Linked DNA regions of Homo sapiens: region 1 is linked to region 2. A link means that fine-mapping ties the variant in region 2 to the expression of a gene that starts in the linked region. Tissue or cell type: lung. Region 2 holds a variant in brackets; the other region holds the start of a gene. All regions are shown on one strand. Distances are between the middles of the regions.

The links. PIP is the estimated chance that this variant, and not a neighbour inherited with it, causes the effect.
Region 1: it holds the start of NALF1, and the variant in region 2 is fine-mapped to the expression of NALF1 in lung (TOPMed, PIP above 0.99).

Annotation. Positions count from the first base shown.
Region 1 is chr13:107,866,461-107,868,960 of GRCh38, forward strand. It overlaps NALF1 (NALCN channel auxiliary factor 1), which reads right to left and starts at 1,036. Exons shown (of 3, transcript NM_001080396.3): 1 at 1-1,036. The coding sequence starts at 136. It overlaps LOC124903206 (heparan sulfate glucosamine 3-O-sulfotransferase 4-like), which reads left to right and starts at 213. Exons shown (of 1, transcript XM_047430833.1): 1 at 213-2,500. The coding sequence starts at 437. The coding sequence ends at 1,000. RefSeq lists an enhancer at 1,504-2,072.
Region 2 is chr13:108,068,495-108,071,257 of GRCh38, forward strand. No RefSeq gene overlaps it. Among named protein-coding and RNA genes, the nearest start is that of LIG4, 150 kb to the right of the region's middle. The variant G/A (reference allele first, on the strand shown) is at 1,510.

The sequences.
Region 1 (2,500 bases), 200 kb before region 2:
AGAGAGATGCCAGAGACAGTCGCCATTTCTGAGCCCTCTCGGAATCGATGAACGGTTTCTCGTTCTCTCGGGGTGCTGCCAACCAGATTTTTAAGCCGTCGTCATACTGCCGACACATCCAAGCACCCCTGGTCATATTTTGGGAACGCACAGCCCTGGCCGACTCCACCGTGAGGGCGCCTGTGCCGGTGTCACCACAATATGCATTGACTTAAAGGGTTTAATTTCCTTATCCCCTCCTCCCGTTTCTTCTCTCTCCTCTCTCTCTTTCTCTCTCTTCCCCTCTCCCTCTCTCCTCTCTCTCTCTCTCCCTCTCCCTCTCTTTTATCTCTCTCTGTCTCTTTTGCCTACATAAATATTACCAGGCTTTGAAGGAAGGTCTGACTTGCTTCCTAATCATCAGCCGACCCCATCCTCTGTAGAGTGGGAAACAATAATGGAGAGAGAGAGAGAGAGAGAGACGGAGGAGGCTGGTGCTGGTGGCCGGCGGCGAGGCTGGGTGCAGGGGGCGATGGTGGAGGTGACAGGGTGGCTGGCGCGGCTCCGGTCACCCAGGCATTGTCAGCGCGCGGGTCCCCATGGCCCCGCGGAGCCCAGCCCGCTCTCCCCTGCCAGGGGCATGCCGCGCCTCCGCTGCCCACTGACGGCGCCCGGAGCGCCTCCCCTCCTCCTCCTCCTCCTCCTCTTCTTCTCCTCCTCTTCCTCCTCCTTCCTTTCCTTCTCCTTCTTCTTCTCCTCCGCCTCCCGCTCCTGCTCCGCGCTGGCTCTCCCAGAGTCCGGAGCCTGGGCTGCCTCCGGCGGGGCGCTCCCTCCCCCCCACCCCCCACCCCGCGCTCTAAGTGCTGCCGCCGCCGCCGCCGCCGCCGCCGCTGCCGCAGGGCCGCCCGCGGGCGCCGCCGCCGGGGCTCCGACTGCTGACGCCGCCTCCCGCGGAGCTCCGGGCCGAATCGCCTGGGCTGGGCCTCCCGAGAGCCACAGTCATCTTCAGTCCGCGGGCTAAGTTGCCGCCATCTTCGTCCTGGAGAAACACTTTTTTGGGGGGAGCGCTGGCTTTTGCGTCATCTCCTCCCGCGCCGAGCTCGCTCCATCCTGGCGCAGTGGCGCCGGCTCGGCCCGGGAGGAGGGAGAAGGCGCGCGGGGGCGGGCGGCGGCGGGGCCGCGGGGCCCGGGGGCCCCCGCCCGGCTCCCCGGGCTCAGGCGCCTGCTCTTTCCTTTCTGTCCCCCTGTCCACGATATTTTGTTTTAATCACTGAAGAGAAAAATAAAAGTCAGACTGCGGACGGCATGGCCGGTGAGGCTCCTCGCGGCCGCGCCGCCCGCACGCTCTGGCTCCGGGAAGCGTCCGAGTTGCAGGCGCCCGGGCAGAGGTCTCTACTGGTGCGAGGGTCTGGGCAGAGTCCTCTCAACTAAGGACCGAGCCACTTCGGATGGAAGGTGGGGGTCCGCGGAGGAAGCTCGAATTGGCTAGAGGAGGGATGAGGTGACATTTGGTCTCTGAATGCGTCTCGGATCCCGGACCGCGAGATCCATCGCTCCCAGTGCGTGCAGTTATTCCGTCCTGCTGTGTGACACGGGAGAATGGCGCGCACGCCTGTGCACCTGCATCGACCGTGTAGCTGCCTGGGTGACAGCCACCCATTTGTCTATGTTTTCTTTCCTATTCTAAAGTAAACGATTAGAAGTGGCCTCATAGAGTCTTAGGAAGAAACAGTAAGCCCTGTGCCACCCGGGGTCACTGCCTAGCCCTGCCCTCCGCGCGCACCGTCCGCGTCTCCGAGGGCTCCTCCTCGGACCTGGACCCTCTGGAGCGGCTTCGACCCTCCCTCTGCCCCCGCTGCCTGCGTCCAGACCCCCTCCCGGGTGGGCTCCTCCGAGGACCTCCGCAGCCGCGGGCGAGCTGGGTGCCTGCGAGTCGCCGCCGCAGTCTGAGCCTCTGGTGCCCCTTAGCGTTGGCTCTCGGAGTTCTGAGAAGGGAAAGGAGACAGACACTCTGGGAAAATCTGGGGTCACCTCGATTCCGGCTCCTACGCTGGATGCCGTGGGCAAGCATCGGTCTCCTTTGATCTGAAGATCCTGCCCACTCCGCCCCTTGCCCCTGCCAGACCCGCGGGAGCAGCAGGTGGCGTGGGTGCCAGACGCTGCCGGTGCGCACCGAGTGCAGCGCTGCCCCGGCTCGCCCCGGGGGTCGCGTGGGACAGCGGTTTGCGGTGTCGCCCTCTCTGCGGTGCTTTCCAAGGACCCTCATGCCCCGCCCGGGTGCACATTCACCACATGGGTCTTACTAGGTGACCTCTTTCTAAGTAAAATGCATTGAGAAACCAAAGGGATGGGGCATCCGTATCCATTTTCCTTTAAGGAGCGCTGTGGGTGTTGGGGATGCGGGAGAAGTAGGTGTTTTTTAAAGAGAAAATTGCAAAACCTCTTGGGCAGGATTCGACCTACTAGCCTCTTCTGCTGCATAATAAGGTACTGTATACACTAAATTTTACCCCTAAAAATT
Region 2 (2,763 bases):
AAGGCTGGTTTCCAGGGACATAAGTAAACCAATTTATCTAGCTAAGTTCCTTTACATTCCCTTGTTACCTACCCTTTACCCTTAAGAGAATTTAGCTGATGGCAGAATTTAGCTGAAAGCTTTTGCAAAACCTCCCAGCCTTCCAAGGAGATTTGCGTCTTTCCCTAAAATTTTTTCTTATAACTTTTCCCACCACCCTGACTGATGTCCTACAGATCTTTTTGTTCCAGGTCCTCCCAATTCTGAAGAGATTAACTAAAAGTCTAGCACCTTTTAAAGATCTGAATAGGAAACATTTGTCATCTATTGTCTCTAAGGCAGCCACTATAAGACTTCAAAAGAACCTTGGCCTCCACAGTCTTTTCTCTTAACCTGAACATTTCCTTTCTATGGATCCCAGGTCTTTAGACAAACTCAACCAATTGTCAACCAGAAAACGTTTAAATTTACCTATAGACTGGAAGCCCCTCCCCCCAACCCCCTCACCTCCCCACCCACTTTGAGTTGTCCCGCCTTTCTGAACCAAACCAATGTATTTCTTAAATGTATTTGACTGATGTCTCATGCCTCCCTAAAATATATAAAACCAAGCTGTACCCCAAACACCTTGGACATATGTTTCTTGGGACCTCCTCAGGGCTGTGTCATGGGCCATGGTCACTCATATTTGGCTCAGAATAAATCTTCTCAAATATTTTACAGAGTTTTACTCTTTTTGTCCACACCTCAAAACCCTCCTTGTCTTTTAAAATTAAACCAAATTTGTGTAAATGCTCAGCTTATTCTGAACGAACTTGTTTGTGAGTTTTATTATACATGTATTTTATGGTGTGTGTGTGTGTGTGTGTGTGTGTTTAGCATATAAACTCCTAAAGGATAGGGAAACTTTTTACAGTGGCTTCTTAAAATAGTTATGTGTGTATACCTTTGATGAATGAAAATATGCAAATTTTAAAAACCCCAAATCAAGTTCCGTTGAGCTTTGGATTATAGAGGAGAGCTGAAGGAAGTTCATGTCCACTGTGAAAAATTAAAAAAAGAAATTCAATTTTAACCTAACAGAGACCTAAGGTGTTAGAAACAAATGCTCGGTGCTGCAAAGAAAAATCAGCACTCTGGCAAAAAGCTTTCTCAACAAGGCGATTTACTTCTGCAGAAGAGTGCCACTTGTGCCTGGTGTGGTTGCAAGAGCACATCAAGTGGGGTGGGGAAGAGGTTTTATTCCAAACACAGCAGCTCCTGTAGCTGTGTCCCTTTCTCCATTGGCTGTAGTTGGACTGCACAATCTAAGCTGACCCAATTGGCTACTGTTTAAAATTGAATAGAGTTAACTAGGTGGGATGGGAGAGGCTGTCCGTTACAGTTTTAGGGTGCAGTAAAGGCAGGAAGGATAGTTCTAGGGGGAAGGTCAGTTACAGAGTGGGTAACCAAGGGAGTAGATGTGAGTTTTAGAGTAGGACTGGCAGGAAGGTTGTTTACCCTAACTAGGGGCAAGGAGGCACAAAGAAC[G/A]AGGAAGTTAGACTTTGAAAACTGAGATCAAAGAACAAGGAAGCTGAGCAAGCTGACTCTTTGAAGAGAAACTCACTGTACCTCACAAAGGTCACAAGGCAATCAACTGGCCCAAAATATAAGGAGATGTGAGTACCCACAGGGAAAGAAAAGACAGAAGCACTTCCCTCCATGGGATAGATAACAATCAGATATTAGAAGAAAAGAGTTCGGCTGGGCGCAGACTCTAGTTAAAGTATCACCCATGTAGTGAGAATTCAGTTACCACCCGATTAAGTCCTACACTGAAGGCTACTGTCATAGGCCTAGTCTTTAGAAGTTGATCCTTGAAGAGGAGTCCTTGTTTAGGAGACATGGAACAAGGGAAGCAGTTTAGGTCAGGGGGAATCTAAGCCAGGATTCAGTCTCCCCTGTAAACTGGCTTCCCTGTGTTCCCAGGCAAGCGCTGGGGCCTGGCTTTCTCTGGAGATCATTCTAAAGCCATCCGACTTTCAGCACCCCTGTCTTTTACCTATTGACCAACTGCTTGCCTCAGGGAGGCCTTAAGGGCATAATCTTCTGGGCAAGGTGACTGCCATTTTACTGCACAATGTTCTGCCTGGCAATTAGCAGGCTCTAAACAAATATTTGTTAAATGTTATTCATGTTATTTATTATCTGTTTAAATGCTCCCCCCCGCCACCGCCACCTTGCCCACCTCCAGTGACTCATGTTCAACATAGTCTGAACTGAGTTCAGCATTTCTCCACCCACGTATCCTGTCTTAATCTTATTATTATCCTCCCCGACACAGAAGCAAGAGATTTCTAAGTCAAATTTACTTCTTACTTGCCTTTATTCACTCATAAATAATTCATTAATTCTACAAATATTGCTGCTGAAAACTAAAATAAGTGCTGGTGACACAGAGTCAAACAAAACACAGCCTCTGCTTTCAAAGATAATTGTACCTAGTGGAAAAGGGAGAAAAGTAAATCAAGATTTACAGGACAACGTGGAAAGTGCAATGGCAGGACAAAGAAGAGAGGCCAGGAGAGGAGGGGAAGTCATCAGGAAGAAGTGAAGCTTAATCCGAATTAGAAAGAATGAAGGGGAGGGAACCAAGATGAATCAGGGAGAGGGACAGAGGAAATGGGATGTGCAGAAGCAGGGAGGGCTCCGTGGTGAATGGTTCCAGCCAGGATGCCAGTAGTTCACAGTGGCTGCTTGGAAGCCAAACATCAGGAGAGGCCAGCGAAGTCTCCCAAACGCAGA